Regions from separate parts of the Homo sapiens genome. Here all the other regions are linked to region 2. The links come from fine-mapping of genetic effects on gene expression. A gene starts in region 2. Each other region holds a variant in brackets. All regions are shown on one strand. Distances are from middle to middle.

Region 1 (4,083 bases), 85 kb after region 2:
TTTCAGGGTCCCTGGGAGTATGGGTCTCTAGTTTTTTGCGCCCCTTGTTATCTGAGTCCCTGTGTTCCTAGGTCCCTGGGTATTCGGGTCCCTGGGTCCTCAGATCTCTGAGTCCCTGAGTCCCTGGGTCCCTGGGTCCCTGGATTCCCACGTGTATAAGTCCCTAGTTCTCAGTGTCCCTGAGGGTCCGGAGGGGTGGAGCCAGACGTGTTGCGGCCCATAGTGGGTGGAGCCTGAGCACAGTACTCCCAAAAAGGAGGAGCTGCAGCGCAGCCCCCTCCCACGAGGGCGGGGCCAGAGTTCAACTCTCCAAGACCTTCGAAGGGGCGGGGCCAGGACTTCGCCCTCGGGTCTCGCGCAGTAGGGTTAGAGCCAGGAATCAGCCCCCTTGTCCCGCCCCCCGGGGCGGAGCCAGGCCCTGCTCCCACCCCGGCCCGGCGGACCCCGCCTCACGGTGCTGAGTTTGCTGGCGGTGAGCAGGACTCTTCTCTCGGCCAGGAGCGCCGCGAACAGCCCCACGATGTTCTCGTCAGTCACGGCCACCACCAGCTCCGTTAGGTTCCTCTGAGGATCAGAGAGTCGCTCTGGGCGTGGACGGGCCCCTGGATCTTGCATCCCCGGTCCGGGTTTCGGGACCTGTTCTCACCCCCAGAGACCCCTCCCCACTCACGTTCTCAGGGATGGATGGCAGGCGGCCGGAGTCCGGGGCCACGAAGCAGGAAAGCTGGTGGGGGTATTGGCAGGGGGATCAATCAGTCAGGAGGCTGGCCTCACCTGGACCCCCGACCTTCCAGGGTCCCCGAGCCCCGCTCACCGGCTTGCTATTCCCCCGGGTAGGGGGGGGGATACCCTGCCCGCTGGAGACCGTCACTCCGCTGCCCTGGGGAAGAGGCACGACTCTGTGGTCATGATGGCTGGGACGCAGCCTTCCCATCCACCTAAGGTCCAGCGCCCAGGGAATGGGAGCTACTCACCAGCTCAAGCCCCACTGAGGCCTGGGGCCCAGACAGGGACTGCTGAAACAGATTTTGAAGAAGTTCCTCTGCCTCGGTGACCTGGGTGGGACGTGGAGGGGCGGGGGTGGCTGAGCCAGATGTGGGGATTGGGGATTCCGAGGGCTATGACTAAGGTTGAGTGGTCTGGGAGGAGCCAAGGGCTCAGGTCAGTCCTGGGAGTTTTTTTTTTTCTTTCTTTAAAAGAAATTAATAATAATAATAATAATAATAATAGAGACAAAGTCTCCCTATGTTGCCCAGGCTGGTCTTGAACTCCTGGGCTCAAGGGATCCTGCTGCTTCGGCCTCCCAAAGGGCTACAATTACAGGCGTGAGCCACCGCGCCCGGCTTTTTAAATTTTTTAATTTAAATTTTTCCTTGTAGGCCGGGCGCGGTGGCTCGCGCCTGTAATCCCAACCCTTTGGGAGGCTGAGGCATGCGGATCACCTGAGGCCAGGAGTCCGTGTCCAGCCTGGCCAACATAGTGAAAACACGTCTCTGTTAAAAGTACAAAAAAAAAAAAAAAAATTAGCCGGGCTGGTGGGCCGCGCCTATAGTCCCAGCTACTTGGGAGACTGAGGCGGAAGAATCGCCTGAACCCGGAATGCGGAGGTTGCAGTGAGGCGGAATCGCACCACCGCACTCCAGCCTGGGCGACAGAGGAAGACTCCATCTAAAAGAAATTTTTTTTCTTGAGACAGGGTCTTGCTCTGTCCCCCAGGCTGGAGTGCAGTGCTGCGATCATAGCTCACTATAGCTTCGAACTCCTGGGCTCAGTTGATCCTCCCACCTTGCTCTCCTGAGTAGCTGGGACCACAGGTGTGCACCACCACGCCTGGCTAATTTTTTATTTTTATTTTTTGAGACGGAGTTTCGCTCCTGTTGCCCAAGCTGGAGTGCAATGGCGCGATCTCGGCTCACTGCCACTTCCGCCTCCCGGGTTCAAGCGATTCTCCTGCCGCAGCCTCTGAGCAGCTGGGATTACAGGCGTGTGCCACGACGGCCGGCTA[A/ATT]TTTTTTTTTTTTTTTTTTGTATTTTTAGTAGAGACGGGGCTTCACCATGTCGGTCAGGCCGGTCTCGAACTCCTGACCTCAGGTGATCCGCTCGCCTTGTCCTCCCAAAGTGCTGGGATTACAGGCGTGAGCCACAGCACTTGGCCAATTATTTTTTATATTTTGTAGAGACGGGGGTCTCACTATGTTGCCCAGCTGGTCTCGAACTCCAGGGCTCAAGGGATCCTCCCACCTCGGCCTCCCAAAATGCAGGGACTACAGGTGTGACACAGTGTGCCCTGCCAAGCCTGGGAGATCTGAGAGGGAGGGGTTGGGAGGTTGAGGGGGGTGGGGGCTGGGACTCCCACAGGAGTGAGAGAGGGGCTGGTCTCACTTGGTCCTGGGCTAGGAGGTCTCCCACTGTGTTCAATAGCTTGTAAAACACCTCGAACCAAGGCAGGTGGCTGTGGAGAGAGGAGACAGGTTCCACGAAGTGTCCCTAGGCCTCGGCCTTTCCCATCCCCCCCTCCAACCCCCATATCCCGCACCTGAGGATGCAGAGACAGCTCTGGGTACCCGCCCGCAGGCGGCAGAAACCAAATCTGCGGTTGCCGGCAAGGTCTGTGAGGGCGAAGGTGAAATGCTGCACGGCGGGGCTGGGGGGCTCCCTGGAGTGGGAAGGGCTGTTAGAGAGACCTGGACATCCCAGCTGTCTGAGGATGTCCCCGCTCCCCAACAAAGCTCCTAGGACCCTGAGTGTATGGGTCTCTAGTTGTCAGGATCCCTGAATGTCTGGATCCCTGGGTCTCAGAATCCCTGGGTCCCTGAATCTCTGGGTCCCTGGATCTCTGGGTCCCTGAGTCCCTGGGTCCCTGGATCTCTGGGTTTCTGGATCTCTGGGTCCTTGAATCCCTAAGTCCCTGGGTTCCTCAGTCCCTGAGTCCCTGAGTCCCTGAGTCCCTGGTCCCTGAGTTTCTGAGTCTCTGGGTTCCGAAGTCCCTGAATCCTTGTGTCCCTGAGTCCTTGAGTCTCTGAGTCCCTGGGTCCCTGGGTCCCTGGGTTCCTGAGTCCCTAGATCTCTGGGTCCCTGAGTGTCTGAGTCCCTGGATGCTAATGTATATAGGTCCCTAGTTCTCAGGGCCCCTGAGTGTCTGAGTCTCTGAGTCTCAGGGTCCTCGAGTGTATGGGTTTCCAGATGTCTGAGTCTCTAGGTGTTGAGTCCTTGGGGCCCCTGAGAGATCTGAGTCCCTGAGTCCTTGGATCTCCCCGCCCTTCCGTACCTTTCCACATCAAAAGGGAAGCAGAATTTAGGCACCATCTGCATAGCTTCCTGGAGGTGAAGAAAAGCGCAGACTGCTTGGCCACTGAGGTCGGGCACCACCTCCCTGGGCTCCAGGTCCAAGAAACCAAGTCCCCTCCCCCTGGGAGACTGGCCCTCGCCCTGGGGGAGCAAGGAGCCAGCCTGAATACCTGGTCCCTGAAGTCTGGAGGGAACTGCCGCAGGATGGGGGGATCTGTAGAAGAGAGCACGCCTCTAAGTTCAGCGACCCAGGCCCACCCTCCCCTCCCACTCCCTCACTCCCAGGCTCCCAACTCACCCTCCTGCAGGGAGGCAGGGCAGGCCGCTTCGAAGAACCAATCAAACACAGCAGGGGAGCCCCCTCTGTGGGATGCAGAAGGGGTCCAGAGACTTGCTTCTATGCATGTGTGGTTGTGTCTGCCACTTTGCACACAAGTGTGGTTGTGTGTGCATGTGCCACAAGGTGCGTCGGCATGTGCATGACTCTGGGGGTTTGTGGCTGTGAGTGTGTGGTTGTGTGAGGCTGTGTGTGCAGCAGTGTTAATTGAACACACAAGTACAGGATGGAGTGAGAAAGTGTGACTGTGTGTGTGTGGCTGTGTATGATTGTGTGTGGCTGAGTGCATGGCTTTTGTGAGCAGGCAGTGTGTGTGTGATCCTGTCTGCTGTCTGCCTGAAAAGATGAGACTGTCTCCTATATCTGTGGCATGAGACTGCACAGATATGAAGGACAGCCCGTGCAGTCCCAAGCTAAGTGAATTACATCTCTCTCTCTCTATATATATATCCATCTATCTG
Region 2 (4,083 bases):
ATCAGCCACATCTCATAACCTCCACTGCCTCCAGTGCCCTGCCAGGACTCACCTAGACCAGTCCAGTTGCTTCTACCTTGGTCTCCGTTTATTTGCCCTCAAACCCACAGTTTGTCTCCCCATAGCAGCCAGATCACACACACTACAACTTCCCAATTGAAGATGCTTTAATGGCTCCCAAAGTCCTTTCTAGAGCCTCTGATGGCAGGGGCTCTGGGAAAGCCCCCAGCCCAGTCCCCTCCCTTGCCCAGATAAACCATGGCCAAAAATGTCCAACAGTGGGCACAGCTTCTAAATGTTCTCCTTTAAGGAGAGGCCTCTGGTGGGCCTACCAAACCTAACTTACAGGGACACCCAGGAGCTAGGCCTGGGCCTTTGCCATTTCCGTTTTTTTTTTTTTTTTTTTTTTTTTTTTTTTGAGGCAGGGTCTTGCTCTGTTATCCAGGCTGGAGTGCAGTCGTACAATCATAGCTCACTGCAGCCTTGAACCCCTGGGCTCAAGCGATCCTCCTACCTCAGCCTCCTATGTAGGACTACAGACCCACGCTATCAGCCCCAACTAACTTTTTAATTTTTTTGTAGAGTTGGGGTCTTGCTATTGTATTGCCCAGGCTGGTCTCAAACTCCTGGCCTTAAGCAAGCTTCCTGCCTCAGCCTCCCAAAGTGCTGGGATTACAGGTGTGAACTACTGCACCCAACCCTTTGTCATCTATCTTTTCTTCACTTGGAGAAAAGTGAGAAAATTAAGACTTAGTGACTATGACAGTTAAGCAACTATCACAACCACCAAGGTCAGGGTCAAGTTCTCTCACCACCCCAGCCCCTGACCCCCAGGACTCAGAGACTTACCTGATTCCACGTAGCAAAGTTGACTTTGTCGGCTGCATTAAAAGCCATGATGTTATATTTTTTGGTTGTATTCCTGGAGTGGATGAGAAGAGGTAGTGTCAATCCAATACAGCAATTCAATCATTAATTTAATCAGTCAATGCTATTGAACCATTAATTCAATCAACCACCCAACTGGATCGTTAATTCAATCAAATCATTACTTTAATTCAATCACTCAATTCAATTGAACCATTAATTCAATTCAATCATTCCATTCAATTGAATCATTAATTCAATTCAATTCACTCAACAAACCCACCCAGCTTCATTCAGCCTGTTTTGCCTGGCAACACTGGATACGGAAGACTCCAAGGATTCCCAGTCTGCCAGAGAAGCTAGACCCATCCTCTCCTGACCCCAGGCAGAAGAAGAGCAGATGGAGGGACGAAGATTTGGGGGAACCCAAGATGTGGAGATTATTGTGAACTCAGCCTTGGGGAGGAGGGAGGACAGGCAGGGAGTATTTCCTGGAGGAGGAAGATACTGGAGTTGAGTTTTGCAGAATCATCAAGAATTCACCCAGCAGAGTCACAGTTTAGGGGTTGAGGGGAGGCACTCATGGCAGAGGAACAGGATGTACAAAGGCCTGGAAAGGAAAGACAGCCTGACCACTTTGAAACAGGACGAGGAATATGTCCTTACAGCTGGCCTGGGCATCATGGGACCATATACTCCTCGAAGGTTAGGCCAGGGGGCTGGATCACCGTGTATTAATGCACTCATTCATTCATTCGTTCAAAAAAGCAGTGTTGTCCCCAGAGAAGCCTCAGCTTAATCCCAGCCCTGCCCTCCAAGTCTCTCCCGGTCTGGAGGGAGAACCACAGACAGGGCCAGAAATGGCTGGCTAAGAAGATCGTGAAGGTTTTCATTTTTGGGGGGTGGAGAGGAGTGGGAGATGGGGCTGGGGACTTACTTAGGAACTCGAACGACGTATTCAGTGACATTCTGGCTGCTAGGGCCCTGCGGAAAGAGGAAGCGGTGAGTGAGGGGTCGCCGAGGTCGCCGTCGGAACCCCCGAACCCCGCCAAATCCACACTCACTAGGGCCGCCATGGGCAATGGTCAGTGGTTCCGATCTGGTCCGACCCGGGTTCCTTTCGTCTCCTCTGGCGTGCGCGTCCCTCGATCCCGGGGAAGCCGCCGCTCGGTGTCGGGTCTCTGTGCCTGAGCGAGGACCCCAACCCTAGGCGCCTCTGGCGCTGGGAAAAGGTAACCGGAAGAGGCGCTCAAGCTACTCGGTCTACGCTTCTGCGGCCGCCTAACCCGGAAGCGAAACCCTCGAGCAGCCGCGTCGCGATGGCAACCTTCTTAGCGACTGTGGCCACCTCAGTGCGCAGTCACTTATGCTCCTCGGCGGCTATGGTCACCTCAAAAGGTCCACCGCGGTCCCTTTTTAGACTCAGCAAACCTAGGCCGAGTCTGAGATAAACTAACGGGCCTCTGTCGCTGGCGCTCTTGTATATAACGCGGTTAACTTCATCAAATGGGGGACCGCCCTCTCTCGTGACGTCAGCACCCAAGGACCGTGGGGCATCCTGGGTGGGAAGAGGGAGACGAATCCCCCTTGCGGGCTCCCAGGCACTTTGCGCATGCGCCTTGCCGCTCTGGACCTGGGGGGCCCAGAAGGCCGCGTCACCATAGCAACCGAGGCCTACTCGGGTCGGGTCGAACCGCCGCTTGGCTCCCCATGGGTCTGTTTGGGGTTCATTTCCTCCCCCTACCCCGAAGGGGTGGACCCCGTCATTCCCGCAAAATGACCGGGGCGGGGACCCTTGTGACGTTGAGCCGAGCCAGGAGGGGTCAGAGCCTGGGCGGGGTCGGGGCGCGACCACCCCAAGAGCTGCTGGCCGGATGGGTCTTTGCAAGTCCAAGCTGCCCGAGATGGGCAGGGCTCTGAGGCCCCAGGAGAAGGGTAACGTCGCGGGGGCGGCTGGCTGGCTTCCTGGGGGGAAGGGAAGGAAGCTGCCGAGAACAGGAGGGAGATGCAGGATCCCCTACCCCGTTCCAGGCATGCACACATCCCCCGAATCATGGCAGTAACACAACTGCGCATGCTCACGGCGCAACCATTCATTGCTCCACTTCGCAAATACTCCAGCACCTCCTGGGTTCGGGGCCCCGCAAGGTGAATCTGTCAAACCAGCTCCCCACGGAGGATTACAGTGTCCTCTCGAGGGTTACAGTGTCGTGGAAGAGACAGAGTCACAGCATGGGAATCTACAACCCAGGAAGGAGCAGGAGAAGCACAGCGGGGCTCTGAGGGCTCAGAGAAGAGGGGAGGTTTCAGTTGGGCACTGAGGGATGCATAGGAGTTGGCTAAGCAAAGGGAAGGCGGGCAAGACACAAAAGTTGGGCCATGAACTACAGACACCGTCGATGTGTCTGTTTTCATTTATTTCTCATCCACCACTAAATGTCAGGAACCGCCAACCCCTAGGAATATAGGAATGAGGGAGGCAGAAATAGTCCTTGCCCTCATGGAGTGTCTGGCTTGGGGGAGACAAGAACGAGTAAACGGCTGGGCACGGTGGCTCATGCCTGTAATCCCAGCACTTTGGGAGGCCGAGGCGGGCGGATCACCTGAGGTTGAGAGTTCGAGACCAGCCTGACCAACGTGGAGAAACCCCGTCTCTACTAAAAATACAAGATTAGCCGGGCGTGGTAGCACATGCCTGTAATCCCAGCTACTCGGGAGGCTGAGACAGGAGAATCGCTTGAACCTGGGAGGCAGAGGTTGTGGTGAGCCGAGATCGCGCCATTGCCCTCCAGTCTGGGCAACAAGAGCGAAACTCCGTCTCAAAAAAAAAAAAAAAAAAAAAAGAAGGAAAAGAAGGAAAAAAAAAGAACGAGTAAACAGAGAAGATCATGACAGACTGTGGCCATTGCTGTGGAGGAAATAGGTGTCTCAGACAAGGAGTGATGGGGGGAAGCTCTAGATGGAGGCTAGAGAAGGCCAGATGGAAGTTGTGGCCAGAAGGAACTGGGGCAGGCAGGGATTTTCCAAGCAGAGGAAACAGCAAGGGAGAAGTGAGTTTCAAATTCAAAGAACTGAAGCCCCCTGGGGCTGGGACAAAGAGAAGGGGAGTATGGGTTGGGGCTGGGACAGAGGGAAGGGGAGTAGGATATGGGGCTGGAACAGAGAGAAGGGGAGTATGGGATGAGACTGGGAGCGTGGGCAAGTCCCTGCCTCTCA
Region 3 (4,081 bases), 32 kb before region 2:
CCAGATGTGGTGACATGCACCTCTAGTCCTAGCTACTTGGGAGGCTGAGGTGAGAGGATAGCTTGAGCCCAGAGGTTCAAGGCTGCAGTGAGCTCTGATCACACCACTGTGCTCCAGCCTGGGTGACAGAGCGAGACACTGACTCAAAACAAAAAAAGAGTCTACCGCTTACTGCTTGGTAAACTTCTTATACATCAAAATCCACTTCAGGAGTCTCTCTGAATCTGCTGTGATTTTTTTTTTTTTTTTGAGATAGAGTTTTGCTCTTGTTGCCCAGGCTGGAGTACAGTGGTGTGATCTCGGCTCTCTGCAACCTCTGCCTCCTGGGTTCAAGTGATTCTCCTGACTCAGCCTCCCAAGTAGCTGGGATTACAGGCATTCACCACCATGCCGAGATAATTTTGTATTTTTAATAGAGACGGAGTTTCACTGTGTTGGTCAGGCTGGTCTCAAACCCCTGTCCTTAGGTGATCCACATGTCTTGGGCTCCCAAAGTGCTGGGATTGCAGGCATGAGCCACCACAACACCTCGCCTGAATCTGCTGTGATTCGAAGGACTGCCCCGGGAAAAAAAAGAAAAAAACACTTCAAGTAGACTCCCATGTGGGAGGACCTGAAGACTTCTCAGACTTCCATGGTCCCTGATCTAACACAGCAATAAATCATTCAAACTGAGCACTTTTTACACATTTTTGGACCCTTTCTGAGGACTTTCTGCACAAACCTAGGAGGTAGGTTATCATTATCCCCACTCTGCAGATGCCTCCAAAGCCCTCTACCTACCTCCTTTATCACCTCTTCATCTCTTGGTTCAATGTGTATTTAATGAGCACCTACTGTGTGTCAGGCACTATTCTAGACTTTGGGGATGAAGCAGTGGGCACCTCTTAGATAGTGACATTGAACTGAATGATGAAAAAGAATCTGGCTTGAGAAGGTGTGGCAAAAAAGAGAAGTCCCAACATTACCAGCAATCTTCCTACTTCCACCATTTTGCCCATTCTTTTTCCTCTGCTGGAAATGCCTTTCCCCAGCTAACAAACTCCTACTTATCCTGCAAAGCCCAATTCCAATACCTGCTTCTCCTAGGAATGCTTTCCGGTCTGATCTCCAGGAAGAATCCACAACACCCTTCTCTGGGCTCCCACAATCTACTCCACAGGTGGCCAAAAAATGAATGAGGAGGTCTCAGTAGAAGTCGGCCACACCAGGCTGGAAGCTCTTCAAGGCCAAGACCCAGGCTAAGTCCTCTCTGGGACCCCTCTTCCAAGATGAGCTGTGGGAACACTGCAGCTTTTTTTTTTTTTTTTGAGACGGTGTCTGGCTCTGTCGCCCAGGCTGGAGTGCAGAGGCGCCATCTCAGCTCACTGCAAGCTCCACCTCCCAGGTTCACACCATTTTCCTGCCTCAGTCTCCTGAGTAGCTGGGACTACAGGTGCCCGTCACCTCGCCCGGCTAATTTTTTGTATTTTTAGTAGAGACGCGGTTTCACCGTGTTAGCCAGGATGGTTTCGATCTCCTGACCTCGTGATCCGCCCACCTCAGCCTCCCAAAGTGCTAAGATTACAGGCGTGAGCCACTGTGCCCGGCCCTGCAGCTATTTTTAAAATAAGGAATAAGTGGGGTGTGGTGGCTCATGCCTGTAGTCCCAGCACTTTGGGAGGCAAAGGTGGGAGGATCACTTGAGGCCAGGAGTTTGAGACCAGCCTGGGCGACA[T/C]AGTAAGACCCCATCTCTAATACATATATATATATATTTGCCAGATGTGGTAGCACACAACTGTAGTCCCAGCTACTCTGGAGAGCAAGGTGGGAGGGAGGGTTGCTTGGGCCCAGAAATTTGAGGCCACATTGAGCTAGGATGGCGCCACTGCACTCCAGCCTGGGCCACAGAGTGAGATTCTGTCTCAAAAAAATAAAAATAAATAAAGCAGAAACAGTAGAAAACGAAGACGAGGCCGGGCGCGGTGGCTCACGCCTGTAATCCCAGTACTTTGGGAGGCCGAGGTGGGAAGATCACGAGGTCAGGAGTTCAAGACCAGCCTGGCCAAGGTGAAACCCATCTCTACTAAAAATAACAAAATTAACCGGGTGCAGTGGTGTGCATCTGTAATCCCAGCTACTGGGGCAGCTGAGCCAGGAGAATGGCTTGAACCCAGAAGGCAGAGGTTGCAGTGACCCAACATCGTGCCACCGCACTCCAGCCTGGGTGACAGAGCAAGACTCCGTCTCAAAAAAAAAAAAAAAAGAAGACGAATTGGTCGGTAAGGGGACTCGAACTGGAGACTCTAAAACTTCTCCAGCCCTGCCCACTCAATTTACTTCATTGGCTCCTCCCTTTCAGGCTCCGTCCCTATCCCCGCCTCACCCTTAATGGCGCCCGCCCAGACTCCTGGAAGTGAGCGGCCTAGCGAGCGAGCTCCCAGGCGCAAAGCACGCCGGAAGCTGTAGTTCCGCCATCGGACGGAAGCCGACCGGGGCGTGCGGAGGGATGTGGCCCGGAATATTGGTAGGGGGGGCCCGGGTGGCGTCATGCAGGTACCCCGCGCTGGGGCCTCGCCTCGCCGCTCACTTTCCAGCGCAGCGGCCGCCGCAGCGGACACTCCAGAACGGCCTGGCCCTGCAGCGGTGCCTGCACGCGACGGCGACCCGGGCTCTCCCGCTCATTCCCATCGTGGTGGAGCAGACGGTACGGCGGCCGGGCGGGGACACGGTTCGGGGGCTCCGGGCTGGGTGGGGATCGGCTGGCTGCCCCGGCCCCTCACCTCCATCTTTCTACCCCCAGGGTCGCGGCGAGCGCGCCTATGACATCTACTCGCGGCTGCTGCGGGAGCGCATCGTGTGCGTCATGGGCCCGGTGAGCGCCCCGCGCCGGGACCCTCCCCAGGACTCTCCCAAGCGCCTGCCGACACTCCCTGCGCCCCTCCTTCCCTGGCCCCAGACTTTCCCTCAGGCTCCGCTCCCCTTCTAACCCCCTTCCCTCCCCTTCTGACTCCCCTCCTGGCTCCCGGTCCCCCAACCCGCTCCTCACCCCTTCTCTGCTCCTCGGCTCTTAATCTCCGACTTCCTTCCTGACACCTGGCACCGCTCCCCTCATTCCTACGCTCAAGACTCTCCCCAGCCATTCTCACCCCTTCCTTTCCTGTGTCCCTAGCCCCCTGACTCCCCCCTTCCTGTGCTCCAAACCCCCTGGGTCCTCTCCACTACTCTCTCCCCATCCCCTTCTGGGGCCTAAATTCTTCCCCATCCCTTTTACTTTGGGCTCTGGTCCCCCTTCCTGGTTCCCTGACCCATCCCCAGCCTCCCTTAAAACTCTCTCCCCACCCCGAATCTGGGGACACCCCTGCCCTCTCCACCTGCAGATCGATGACAGCGTTGCCAGCCTTGTTATCGCACAGCTCCTCTTCCTGCAATCCGAGAGCAACAAGAAGCCCATCCACATGTACATCAACAGCCCTGGTGAGCAGGGTCTTTCCTGGGTGCCAGGGGCACTCGTCAGGGCACACGGGTGACTCAGGGGACCAGAATCCCGGGTCAGGGATGTTCTCTCTCTGGGAAAGGGTGCAGAGCGTCAGAGTTCCAGAAGTGGCTTTAAACCACCAAAAGGTGCCTGTTGCTGGCTTTTGAGCCTCGGTTCACAAGTCAGGATGTGGCCTCTTTGATCCTGCACATACTGTTCTGCCAACCTGACCCGGCTGACATTTAAAAATTGGTAGATTTTAGGCCGGGCACAGTGGCTCACACCGGTAATCCCAACACTTTGGGAGGCTGAGGCGGGCGGATTGCTCGAGCTCAGGAGTTCAAGACCAGCCTGGGTAACGTAGTGAGACCCCATCTCTACAAAAAAAGTACAAAGATTAGCCGGGCAATGTGGCGTGTGCCTGTAGTCCCAGCAACTCGGAAGGCTGAGGGAGAAGGATCACTTGAGCCCAGGAGGTCGAGGCTGTAGTGAGCCCATCTCAAAAATAATCATAATTGGTAGATTTTTTCCCCCTCCCCAAAAAAAGTAGTCAATTTTGATTGAGCACTTATGATGGAGGCATTTTTTTTTTTTTTTATTGAGATGGAGTCTCGTTCTGTCACC
Region 4 (4,069 bases), 23 kb before region 2:
GGGGTTTCAGGGGTGCTGGCATTATTCCATCTCTTGGTCTGGGTGCTGGTCCTGTAGGGTATGTTCAGTCTGAAAATCCATCCCACCAGACATTTACGAATCATGCCCTTTCCTGGGTGTATATTATACATCAATAACAATTTTTTTTTTTTTTTGAGATGGAGTCTTGCTTTGTTGCCCAGGCTGGAGTGCAGTGGTGCAGTCTCCACCTCCCAGATTTAAGTGATTCTCATACCTCAGCCTCCCTAGTAGCTGGGATTACAGGCGTGTGCCACCACACCTGGCTCATTTTTGTATTTTTAGTAGAGACAGGGTTTCACCATGTTGGCCATGGTGAAACTTTGAAGGCCAATGGTGAAACATGAGGCCAAACTCCTGGCCTCAAGTGGTCCACCCACCTCTGCCTCCCAAAGTGCTGGGATTACAAGTGTGAGCCACCGTGCCTGGCCCAATAACAATTTTTTAAAAAACAAAATTGAAATTGGTATTTTACTGATACCTAGGGGAAACTGAGGCACTGCAGAATGAGGACATGTCTCAGTCAGCTTGAGCTGCTTAACAAAACACCACAGACCTCAACAGAGATTTATGTCTCACAGTTCTGGGGGCTGGGAAGTCCAAGGTCAGGGTGCCAGCTGATTCGGTTCTTGGTGAGTGCTCTCTTCCTGGCTTGCAGACGGCCGCCTTCTCGCTGTGTCTTCACATGGTGGAGAGAGAGCAAGTGCACTGGTGTCTCCTCTTATAAGGCCACTAATCCCATCAAGGGGCCCCTGACCCCATCTCTCCTAATGACTTCCCAAGGACCCCATCTCCAAATCCCATCCCACTAGGGGATGGGGCTTCAACATATGAACTTGGGGTGGTGGGCACAAACATTCAGGCCAAAACAGGACCCAGACCTGGCCCTGGGTCTCTGCTCTTACCCTAATGTGTCTCACCTCCTGCTTCCCCACCAGAGTCCGCCATGGAGAGGGACCGCTACATGAGCCCCATGGAGGCCCAGGAGTTTGGCATCTTAGACAAGGTTCTGGTCCACCCTCCCCAGGACGGTGAGGATGAGCCCACGCTGGTGCAGAAGGAGCCTGTAGAAGCAGCGCCGGCAGCAGAACCTGTCCCAGCTAGCACCTGAGAGCTGGGCCTCCTCTCCAGAATCATGTGGAGGGGCCAGAGGCCTGCCAGACCCCCAGCTGGGCCCTGCTCACCCCTTGTTGCTGGGCTTGGAGGGGCCTCTTGAGGAACTTTTAATTTGCAGGGGTGCCCGCTATGGACGGGGCATTCCAGCTGAGACACTGTGATTTTAAATTAAATCTTTGTGGTCTTTGCTCTGCGTCTGGGACACCCTCCCTTCTGCACCATGACAGCGTGTACACATCTGTGTTTCACAGGCCCCTTCTGCTTTTGTCCTGACCCCAAGAGGCAAGCCATGTCTTCCTTCAACAGATTCTCCTGATCATATCCTATATTCCAGGCAGTGTTCTTTTGTGAAGAAGACACAAGAAACCCTCCTCAAAAGAGCTCCATTCTTGTGGCAGTAGACAGTTACTAAAAAAAACAAAACAGGCCAGGCGCGCTGGCTCACGCCTGTAATCCCAGCACTTTGGGAGCCCGAGGCAGGCGGATCATGAGGTCAGGAGATCGAGAACATCCTGGCTAACATGGTGAAACCCCATTTCTACTAAAAATACAAAAATTAGCCGAGCGTGGTGCACCTGTAATCCCAGCTACTCCGGAGGCTGAGGCAGAAGAATTGCTTGAACTTAGGAGGTGGAGGTTGCAGTGAGCAGGATCACGCCACTGCCCTTTAGCCTGGGCAACAGAGCAAGGCTCTGTCTCAAAAAAAAAAAAAAACAAAAACAGGAAAGGTGGCATGCAAGTGTGAGGGTAAGCGTGTTACAGTTTTTTATGGGGTAATCAGGGAAGCCCTCACTGAGAAGGTGGTGGTTGAGCAAAGCCTCAAAGGAGGTGAGGGGTGGAGCCTGTGTCCAGGCAGAGGGCACAGCCAGTGCAAAGGCCCTGTGACAGGACTGTACCTGGCATGTGAGGACCTATGAGGAGGCCCGTGGCTGAGGGAAGGTGGAAGAGAGGAGATCAAAAAGTAGAGGTGAAAATTAGCCAG[G/T]CGTGATGGTGCACTTGAACCCGGGAGGCAGAGGTTGCAGTGAGCCAAGATCACGCCACTGCACTCCAGCCTGGGCAACAAAGCGAGATTCTGTCTCCAAAAAAAAAAAAGTGGAGGTGATTGAGAATAGATCATAAAAGGCCTGACATCTAAAAGGAGGGATGTGAACCATGGAGGGTTTTGAGAAGAGGAAGGAAAATAAGGATGACTATGACTCCTGAGGAGTGCACCATGAGCAGAAACTGGAGAGCAGTTAGGATAGTTGGAGTAATCTAGACGAAAGCTGATGGCAGCCCTGGCCGAGTGATGAGAAAAAGTCAGATTCTAGCTAGGTGGGATGTGACAGAGAGCAGTTTCCAGAAACTCCGAGCTGATGGCCCAAAGCAGGAAGATGGAGACCTGTCGCCTGAGATGGGAAGTGTAGGCAAAGGAACAGGCTTGGGGAGGGATCAGGAGTTGATTTTGGATATATTATACCTGATGTTTTGATATGTCCCTCGACATCAGGGTCAAGAGGTTGAAATAAAAACGTAGGTGTCATCGGCCGGGCGCGGTGGCTCACGCCTGTAATCCCAGCACTCTGGGAGACCGAGGCGGGCGGATCACGAGGTCAGGAGATCAAGACCATCCTGGCTAACAGTGAAACCCCGTGTCTACTAAAAATACAAAAAATTAGCTGGGCGTGGTGGCAGGCGCCTGTAGTCCCAGCTACTCGGGAGGCTGAGGCGGCAGAATGGCGTGAACCTGGGAAGCGGAGCTTGCAGTGAGCGGAGCTTGCAGTGAGCGGAGATCGCGCCACTGCACTCCAGCCTGGGCGACAAAGCGAGACTCTGTCTCAAAAAAAACAAAATGTAGGCGGCATCAGCATGTAGGCTCATTAACAGTCAGACTGAGACCTGGCTATTGGATTCGGCATTGTGGATGTCACTGGTGGCCTTAAATCAGGCCTTTTCTGGTGCTGTGGGAGCCAAAAGCCAGGCTGGAGTGGATCCAGAAAGGATAGGAGGAAACATATCAGACATAGACAAGTCTTTCGAGGAATTACACTATCAAGGGGAGCAGAGGGTGGGGGGGCAGATGTAGCTGGAGGGAGAAATGGGGTCAATATTTTTCAAAATGCAAGCATTCGGGCCGGGGTCGGGGGGGCGCTACGCTCAGCAGTTACAGTGTTGCAGTTTGCATTATGCACATTTAAAATACATACAAAAGTACCCAGAGCTTTGAGAGGCTGAGGGGAGAGGATCACCTGAGCCCAAGAGTTCCAGGCTGCAGTGAGCTATGATCGTGCCCTTGCACTCCAGCCTGGGCAATAGAGGGAGAAAATAATAAAATAAAGGCCGGGCATGGTGGCTCAGGCCTATAATCCCAGCACTTTGGGAGGCCGAGGCAGACGGGTCACCTGAGATCAGGAGTTTGAGATCAGCCTGGCCAATGTGGTGAAACCCTGTCTCTACTAAAAATACAAAAAATTAGCCGGGCGTGGTGGCAGGCGCCTGTAGTCCCAGCTACTCGGGAGGCTGAGGCAGGAGAATGGTGTGAACCCGGGAGGCAGAGCTTGCAGTGAGCCAAGATCCCGCCACTGCACTTCAGCCTGGGTGACAGAGCGAGACTGTGTGTCAAAAAAAAAAAAACCCAAAAACCAAAAAAATAAAAAACAAAAATTAGTTGGGCGTGGTGGCAGCTTCCCGTAATCCCAGCTACTCGGGAGGCTGAGGCAGGAGAATCGCTTGAACCCGGAAGGCAGAGGTTGCAGTGAGCCAAGACCGCACCATTGCACTCCAGCCTGAGTGACAAGAGCGAAATTCGGTCTCAAAAACAAACAAAACAAAAAAGCTGGGCATGATGGTTCGTTGCCTGTAATCCCAGCTACTCGGGAGGCTGAGGCATGAGAATCACTTAAACCCCAGAGGCAGCGGTTGCAAATCTTCAGGGCCTGAGATCGTGCCACTGCGC
Region 5 (4,083 bases), 100 kb before region 2:
CACTGCACCCAGCTCCTATCTCTTCTTTATATACAACATTAAATTTCTGTGCGCACGCGTGTGTGTGTGTGTGTGTGTGTGTGTGTGTTTGAGACAGAGCCTTGCTCTGTCGCCCAGGCTGGAGTGCAGTGGTGTGATCTTATCTCACTGCAACATCTGCCTCCAAAGTAGTTGGGATTTCAGGCATGCACCACCATGCCTGGCTAATTTTTGTATTTTAATAGAGATGGGGTTTCACCATGTTGGGCAGGCTTGTCTTGAACACCTGACCTCAGGTCATCCACCTGCCTCGCCCTCCCAAAGGGCTGGGATTACAGGTATGAGCCACCGCATCCAGCCTACAATGTTAAATGTTAAGAATGTTGCTGCAAAACAGAGAAATTACTGGATAGAATGAGCATTTGGCTTAGTCATCAAAAGTATAAAATGGAAGGTTAAGAGTAGCACAGATGAGCAAAGTGTGCCTTGGTATCTGTACATAATTTTGTGGGAAAAATGTTATTGTCATTTCCTTGGTTGCCATCTTGGTGCAAGGCACCTTGAGGCACAGAACAGAAGCATGGCCTCAGGAAGGAAGCTTTTCTGTAAACACAAGGGCAAATAAATGGTCCAAGGTCCCATACATGCAGGCCTTCTTTGCCTTGCAGGGTAATCTGGACCTTTGCCAACATTGTAGGATTGATTCAGCTGTCCTAATGGCCTTCTCAGGAGAAGCTGCAAGGGGTAATCCCAGAGAAATAGGGAAGCATACCCCAGAGGTACCTCCAGCAGGGGAATCAATCCCCTCAACTCCTCCCTATCCAGGTTCTCTCTCAAGCTTGCCCCGGCATAGTAATCCTTGTTTAAGGCAGGTCCCAGTCTCAACTGCCCAAAAACAGATGCCTGGTGAATATGGTCCCATTGAAGTTCAGTTTTCCTTTTCTCTATAGAACTTAAGGCAAATTTAAGGGGAGATCTTGGCAAGTTTTCAGATGGCCCTCACAGGTATATAGAGAGTTTCCAGAACTTAACCCAAGTATTTGAGCTCTCCTGGAAAGATGTCATGTTACTCTTGTTTTTGTTTTTGTTTGAGATGGGGTCTCACTCTGTCATCCAGGCTGGAGTGCAGTGGCACTCTCTTGGCTCACTGCAACCTCCACCTCCCAGGTTCAAGTGATTCTCCTGCCGCAGCCTCCCAAGTAGCTGGGACTACAGGCATGCACCACCACACTGGCTAATTTTTATATTTTTAGTAGACATGGGGTTTTACCATATTGGCCAGGCTGGTCTCAAACTCTTGACCTCAAGTGATCTGCCCACCTTGGTATCCCAAAGTGCTGGAATTACAGCCATGAGCTGCACCCGGCTTCATGTTACTTTTGAATCAAACCCTGACCACCACTGAAAAGCAGGCCACCCTGAAAGTGGCACAGAATTTTGGGGATGAGCTTTATATCTTATATAGGGCCAGGGAAGGGGATGAGACTTATCTGATTGGAAGAATAGCAGTACCACTGAAGAACCCTAAATGGGACCTCAATGATGAGACAAAAGAATGGGGCCAGGCGTGGTGGCTCACACCTGTAATCCCAGAACTTTGGGAGGCTGAGATGGGCGGATCATGAAGTCAGGAGATCAAGACCATCTTGCCCAACATGGTGAAACCCCATCTCTACTAAAATACAAAAAAAATAGCCAGGCATGGTGGTGCACACCTGTAGTCCCAGCTACTTGGGAGGCTGAGGCAGGGAATCACTTGAGCCTGGGAGGCAGAGATTGCAGTGAGCTGAGATCATGCCACTGCACTCCAGCCTGATGACAGAGCAAGACTCTGTCTCAAAAAAAAAAAAAAAAAAGAAAATGGAAAAGGAGGCCAGGCACGGTGGCTCACACCTGTAATCCCAGCACTTTGGAAGGCCGAGGTGGGCAGATCACGAGGTCGGGAGTTCTAGACCAGCCTGACCAACATGGTGAAACCCCATCTCTACTAAAAATACAAAA[A/G]TGAATTAGCCAGATGTGGTGGCACATGCCTGTAATCCCAGCTACTCAGGAGGCTGAGGCAGGAGAATAACTTGAACTTGGGAGGTGGAGGTTGCAGTGAGCCGAGATCATGCCACTGCACTCCAGCCTCGGCGACAGAGCAAGACACCATCTCAAAAAAAAAAAAAAGAATGGAAGAGGAAACACTTTCAGGTGTGCATACCAGAGGGCATACGAAGGACTAGGACAAAGCCTCTCAATTACACTAAGCTATCCATGGTAGACAGGGATTAAGCGTGAGTCCCACTGCCTTCCTGGAAAGGCTAAGAGAGGCCTTGGTAAAACACACCTAAGTCCTGATTGAGGAGAGGGACATCTGATCCTAGAGGATGAGTTTATGACACAGTCAGGCCCTGATGTCAGGAGGGAGCTTCAGAAACAGGCTGCAGGGCCAGATGGTACTTTGGAGGGCCTCCTGGGAGTGGTCACCTTAGACTTTGCTGTGGGAACTTGGAGGAAGTCCAGAAAAGAGAGAGGAGATACGGAAAAAAAGGCAAAAGCTCTAATACCTGCCCTGAAGCTTCACGGACTCCATAGTCCCTGAGATGCACCCGTTGTCTGCTGCAAATGTGGCAGGCCAGGCCACTTCAGGAGAGACTGTCTGGGCAGTGCGGGGAGGCCACCTCAACCCTGTCTGGTTTGCAGTGGGAACCATTGTAGGGGCAGCCTGTCCCTGGAGACACAGGTTGCCGGGTCCAGGACCAGACTTCCAGATGGTCCAGAAGGACAGATGGATTCTAGGGCTCCTTTCCCAAGCTCTGATGGTTCAGACCACTATTACCATCCAGGAGCCCTGGGTTGAAGGGAGGAAGGTAGCCACCTCCTGGACTCTGGAGCAGGCCTTTCAGTTCTCCTCCCCAACCCAGGCCCCCTTCCTCTCTTAGCACGACTGTAAGCAGCATCTCAGGTCTTCTTCCCCACCACGCCAGGAGTCAACATAGTCTTGTGACTACAGGGAGCTTTTCTCTGTGGGGTTACTTTTGTTTCCGTTAGGGAGTGTATTAGTTCGTTTTCATGTTGCTGATAAAGACATACCCAAGCCTGGGAAGGAAAATAGGTTTAACGGACTCACAGTTCCACATCATGAGGAGATTCTCCAGAGTCTGAGGGTCAAAGGCGTTCCAGTGATTTATTTATTTATTTATTTTTTAAGACAGAGACACGCTCTGTCACCCAGGCTGGAGTACTGTGGCACAATCTCAACTCACTGCAACCTCACAATCATGGCAGAAGGAGAAAGGCACTTCTTACATGGCAGAAGCAAGAGAGAATGAGGAAGAAGTGAAAGCAGAAACCCTTTATGAAACCATCAGATCTCATGAGACTTATTCACTACCATGAGAACAGTATGGGGGAAACCATCCCCATGATTCAATGACCTCCCACTGAGTCTCTCCCACAACATGTGGGAATTATGAGAGTATAATTTAAGATGAGATTTGGGTGGAGACACAGAGCCAAACTGTATCAGGGAGGCACCTTATTAGGTCAGGTCCCCAATTTCTGGGACTCCCTTTCTCTCCCTTGTTTGAGGAGGACCTGGCCTCACGGCTTCACCTGCTTATGATAGAGAGGCAGTAGAGGAGCAGCCCCCTCCAGTTGCTATCTGCAATTTGGCGAGGGCCACATGGGACTAATTTAATGGGTCCATAGACCCATCTGAGTCACCTTTTTTGTCCCAAGCTTCACTTTAAAGTCCTGAAATGGGACATTAGACCTGAGGCAGATGACAGCAGGAGTTGAGAGGCACAGCCCAGGTGAGCATGACTAATTCCTGCCAGTTAGCCCTCCTGCTTCATGGATGGAAGCATAGATAAGGTCTAGGGAACCCAAAGGTTACCAACAGCAGAAGGATAGGGTGGTATGTAGGTAAGTGCGAATATTCCTACCCACTAGGCCTTCCCGCTGCATGGGTGAAGGTTGCACTCGCAGCTATGAGTGGCACCTGCAAAGGTCACTGGGACTCAAGGATATAAGGTTGGAAGAGGAAAAAGAGATGCCTTTTTAAAAAAATCTCCATCACGTACCCCAGGTATTCACTGGAAAGAGAGGAACAAAGGGATG
Region 6 (4,082 bases), 180 kb before region 2:
GCTTCCGGAGGCCTTGGAAACGGCAGGAAGGGCCAGACGCCACCACCGAGAGCAGGCGGGGGAGCCCGACCCTCCTCTGGCTGAGTGGAAGGCTGCTCGAGTCGCTGTGTGGATTTTGGGGGACTCCTGCGAAGGAGAAAGGCCAGCACCCTGGGCTGAGGTTCCTGTCCGTGACCCCGGCGGCCTCTTGTGCGTAGAGCTCCCAGCAGCACGGGCCCCCGGTCAGCCCCCCTCAGGCCAGTTCCTTCAGTCCAATGTCTTAGTTTCCAGAGAAGAAAGGAAGCGCCCCATGGTGGAGTATTGTTGGCCGCCCTGGGAAGGGGAGAGGGGGCACAGGGGCCTGCCCTCTTCCTGATACCTGAAGGCAGTGGGGCCGGGAGAGAAACAGAGCAGGTGGCGAGGAGTCCCGGAGGCTTCCTCCGAAGGTTCTCGGGCCTTTCCCCGAGAGTTCTGGGGAGTTTCCCCAGGACAGCTGGCATTGGGGGCAGCCTTGGAGGCATGGGTCCCCACCAAGGAGTGTTCAGGATCTGCTGACAGAATCAGAGCAGGGACAAGATGAGGGACCTCAGGGAGGGACAGATGGAGCCCCCCAAGTCTGAACTCATAGGCTGGGGAGGAGGAGACATCTAGGTGGGTTCGAGGGGGTGCGAGCCCACCTCCAGGCCCTCAGCCCTCTTTTCCTCATAACTTGGTCAGGGCACAAGGACTTGAAAGGACTTGAAAGTCAGGGGGTTGAGAGGACTGGAGGCGCCTCGAGTCAATGTCTGGGAAACAGAGGCTAACCAGGCAGGCCTCCAGCCCCTGGGACCCCCAGCCACGATGGGCTGGCTCCGCGGGAGCGTCCTGGCCCTGGAAGAGTGGGCCGGGAAGGAGGACCGGCTTGGCCCCTGGAGAATCTCAGGCATACCAGGAGTGGGGCTGCGGGCGCGGCACCAGCATGAATTGCGGCGGTGGAGGCCGGGGCGGGCCAGGCCGCGACCAGAGAGAAAGGCAGCCTGGGAGGGCCAGCCCGGCCAACCCACCGGGCCTGCTGATGGCCGAGCCCACGCTCGAGGGGCTGACCAGAGTTCAATGCGCCTCAGAAAACTCCATAAACTATCCCGTCTTATTTGGCAAAAGCTCATATTTTTTTCAAAGTTTGAAGACTTGAATGAAAGAGAGGAAGAGGAGCCTATGGGAGGAGGCCGAGCCCCAGGGCGGCTGATGCGAGTCTGTCCGCGGAGACTGTTGGCGCTAGTCTGAGTAGAGCCCGAGAGCAGACTGGTGGCTCCCGGGCGCCCTGAGGACTCGCTGCCCTTTGTAGTGTTGGCTGACCCCCCCGGGAGCCCCGGTAGGAGGCGGCGGCATCCTTGGAACGGCAAAGGGAGAATTCCTCCATGCGCCTGGAGAGGGCCAGCTGCCGTGCCTGGCTCGGCCTCCAGCCCCACACCACCGCAGAGACATCTTAACCTACAAGCCCCACCGTACGCACCCCCCACCCACCCCACGTGCACTGCTGCCACAGAAACGCACATGGACACTGCTCTTGACCAGACAGTGCACACACATATATAATAGAGAGAACTATACAGCACAGACCCCAGCGCAGCGCGAGCCGGGGAGGAGCCGGCGCTAGGTCTACACGGAGGACGACGCAGACACACAGGCAGGGCCTTCTGAGGTCCAGGGTGGGCGGAGGGTGTGTTCTGAACCATTCGGGAGGCTGGAGATGCCCCCCAGCCGTCGATCCGCTGCTCAGAAAGGCTGGGGCAGCGACGCCGCACAGCCCGCCGAGCAGTGGGGGCTGGTCCCAAGGCTGGGCGAGGGGCCCCCGGC[C/T]CTGTCTCTGCCCAGAGCTGCCTTCAACACCAGCCGCTCTCTGAGGGGAGCCCAGAGAGCCCGGGGGGCGGCTCCCGTGTGGCCCAGCCCGGCCCCAGGGCTCCTGGCGATGGAGCGGGGAGAGTGGGCAGGGAGCCGCCGAGGAAAGTGCAGCGGGCTGTGCGGGCGAGGACAGGGCTGTCGCTAAGGCAGTGCTGCGGGCAGGCGAGACGGGAGAGGAGGGCAGGCGAGGCCTGGCTGCAGCCTCCCAGGACCCCGGCGGTGGGGGCCCGGCACGCGGCCCAGGGTCATGTGGCCACGGCCTCCAGGCAGCTCTGCAGTTTGCGCACGGTGGTCTCGTCCAGGGAGAAGAGGTCGAAGTCGAAGGTGGTGTTGGTGACATTGAAGTGGCCAGTCTCCTCGATCAGATTCACAATCTGTAAGGTGGTGGCAGGTGGCTTCAGGGGCAGGGGGCCAAGGGTGGGGTTGCCCTGTTCCCTAACAGAGGTAGGGGCTCCTGGGGCAGCACCAGGGGCCCCCGCAGCCCACACTCCTCACAGGCACCCCGACCTCTGCCGGGCAGGACCCTCAGGGGGGCGATACCTGCTGCAGCACGTTGCGCTCCCGCAGCGCCATCAGCCTCCGGTGTAGCTCCACCAGCTCATCCGTGTAGGCCTGGGGAGGGGGGGCAGGTCTCAGCAGCGTGTGGGGGCCCTGGACCCTTCCTGCTCCCATGCCCAGCCCCACCCATGACCCAGTCCATCCCAGCACAGGACAGAGGTAGCCACATCCAAACCAAGGAAGGCCCAAGGCTGCAGGGGCAGCCCCTCAGCTCCAAGGCCACACCGGGAGGGGAGGAAGGACTGTCCCTGCTCCTGCCCAGGAAGAGTCCAACTGTGGGGTGTTGGGGGGCTCTGGGGTCCTCCACTGGCTGCAACTCCCACCACCCACCCCTCCGTAGCCTCCCCGCCTTGTCGTAGGTGCCCCCCCACCTTGTCGTAGGTGCCCTTCTTGAGGATCTTCTCAGGCTTGCTGCAGGACTCGGGGCTCCTCCGGCCTGACACCTGCAGGGAACCCAGGTCTCTGCTGAGCTGTGGCCCACACCCTCCCCAGCCCCGAAGGCCCCACAAACCCTCCTAGGACAGCCCGGCCCAGGGCTAAGCCCGGCCTCTGGTGCACCCCCTGCCTGCAGGCCCCAGGCTCACCTTGCTGTTGGGCGGGGGTGGCTTCTGGGGGGGTGGGGGCTCACGGCTGGGCAGGGAGGAGTCGGCGCTGTTGTCACTCTCGCTGTCGCTGAAGCTCAACCTGAACCGACACACGGGGGCGCATCAGGCCCCTGCCGCCACCACGGCCCCCACCCCACCCCCAGGCTCAAGCCTCTGCCCCGCACGGAGTCGGTGCCTGAGCCCACACACCCCCAACAGCTCCATTCACCTCTGCGCAGGAACCTCAACTTAAAAATACTGTGTGTGGCCACCAAGAGGAAAGAACCCCAAGGAAACCAGGCCACCCAGAGGCCCTTTGGGGGCCGCCCGAGCAGGCCAAGAGTGCTCCGGGATACCCGGGACACAAAGCCCCCCAGCCAATGGGCCTTGCTGGGCTGTGGTCCTCTGACTTGGTTCTGTGGCTTTAACAAGGGGAGGAGGAGCTGCCTGCTGAAAACCTGCCCTCTTCTCCCAGCACTGCCCTAGGGCTTCCATGGCCGCCCGTCCCTCCGATGCTCCCCTGGCCGCCTGACCCTGGTTTGCTCTGGACAGCAGGCCTCCATCAGTCACATCGGCCCCCCTGACCCTAGAGGGTGTGGTCCTAAACAGGGGTATCTGGTGGTGGGGAGAGGTCCAAGCTCTCAACCTCCCCTACCCTGGGGGGCAGGTCTTTGACCTCTGCCTCAGTTTCCCCATCTGTGAAAGGAGGCTGCTATGACCACACACAGAGCCTGGGCCCATTTTTCTCTCACTCTGCGTGCCTGGGGTCCCGCTCTGCCAGGGATATTTTGGGCTTGATCCAGTGAGAGGGGCCCCTGACAACCATCACTTCACAACACGTTTAAAACACAGCAAACCCCAGGCCTCCTAGTGAACAAGGAGGTGCCAGAAGCGGCTCGAGCACACCGGACTTCCCGGTGGGCAGCACAGCCATTGTCCCTGTTCCTGGCCTGCTCCTGCCCCGGCGCAGGCTCCGTTCATCTCTTAAACTTGCCCCTCAGTGGCCTCAGGCTGGGGCCACTCTCTGCAGCTGCCTCCCGGCTCTGGCAGCTCCAGGTCTGGCTCACGTTGCCCAGGCGACGC

Evidence for each region.
Region 1: its variant is fine-mapped to the expression of GTF2F1 in whole blood (INTERVAL, PIP above 0.99).
Region 3: its variant is fine-mapped to the expression of GTF2F1 in breast (GTEx, PIP above 0.99). The same link has a PIP of 0.9 or more in skeletal muscle.
Region 4: its variant is fine-mapped to the expression of GTF2F1 in subcutaneous fat (GTEx, PIP above 0.99). The same link has a PIP of 0.9 or more in esophagus mucosa, pancreas, sigmoid colon, tibial nerve, transverse colon and visceral fat.
Region 5: its variant is fine-mapped to the expression of GTF2F1 in esophagus muscle (GTEx, PIP above 0.99). The same link has a PIP of 0.9 or more in cerebellar hemisphere.
Region 6: its variant is fine-mapped to the expression of GTF2F1 in whole blood (INTERVAL, PIP above 0.99).

What each region holds. Positions count from the first base shown.
Region 1 is chr19:6,476,404-6,480,486 of GRCh38, forward strand. DENND1C (DENN domain containing 1C) reads right to left here. Exons shown (of 23, transcript NM_024898.4): 2 at 3,584-3,648; 3 at 3,456-3,499; 4 at 3,266-3,315; 5 at 2,534-2,653; 6 at 2,380-2,449; 7 at 975-1,055; 8 at 815-880; 9 at 671-724; 10 at 454-564. Among named protein-coding and RNA genes, the nearest start is that of DENND1C, 3.3 kb to the right of the region's middle. RefSeq lists an enhancer at 3,479-3,978. The variant A/ATT (reference allele first, on the strand shown) is at 2,006.
Region 2 is chr19:6,391,053-6,395,135 of GRCh38, forward strand. GTF2F1 (general transcription factor IIF subunit 1) reads right to left here and starts at 2,112. Exons shown (of 13, transcript NM_002096.3): 1 at 1,932-2,112; 2 at 1,805-1,851; 3 at 850-922. The coding sequence starts at 1,943. It overlaps MIR6790 (microRNA 6790), which reads right to left and starts at 1,931; the gene lies at 1,869-1,931. It also overlaps the pseudogene LOC390877.
Region 3 is chr19:6,359,087-6,363,167 of GRCh38, forward strand. It overlaps CLPP (caseinolytic mitochondrial matrix peptidase proteolytic subunit), which reads left to right and starts at 2,445. Exons shown (of 6, transcript NM_006012.4): 1 at 2,445-2,686; 2 at 2,783-2,854; 3 at 3,360-3,456. The coding sequence starts at 2,489. It also overlaps a transcript of ACER1 not described here. RefSeq lists a silencer at 2,692-2,921 and an enhancer at 3,120-4,077. The variant T/C (reference allele first, on the strand shown) is at 1,718.
Region 4 is chr19:6,367,582-6,371,650 of GRCh38, forward strand. It overlaps CLPP (caseinolytic mitochondrial matrix peptidase proteolytic subunit), which reads left to right. Exons shown (of 6, transcript NM_006012.4): 6 at 957-2,661. The coding sequence ends at 1,129. Among named protein-coding and RNA genes, the nearest start is that of ALKBH7, 3.2 kb to the right of the region's middle. The variant G/T (reference allele first, on the strand shown) is at 2,117.
Region 5 is chr19:6,288,309-6,292,391 of GRCh38, forward strand. No RefSeq gene overlaps it. Among named protein-coding and RNA genes, the nearest start is that of MLLT1, 10 kb to the left of the region's middle. The variant A/G (reference allele first, on the strand shown) is at 1,981.
Region 6 is chr19:6,210,940-6,215,021 of GRCh38, forward strand. It overlaps MLLT1 (MLLT1 super elongation complex subunit), which reads right to left. Exons shown (of 12, transcript NM_005934.4): 9 at 3,000-3,099; 10 at 2,787-2,858; 11 at 2,398-2,469; 12 at 1-2,231. The coding sequence ends at 2,103. Among named protein-coding and RNA genes, the nearest start is that of MLLT1, 67 kb to the right of the region's middle. The variant C/T (reference allele first, on the strand shown) is at 1,816.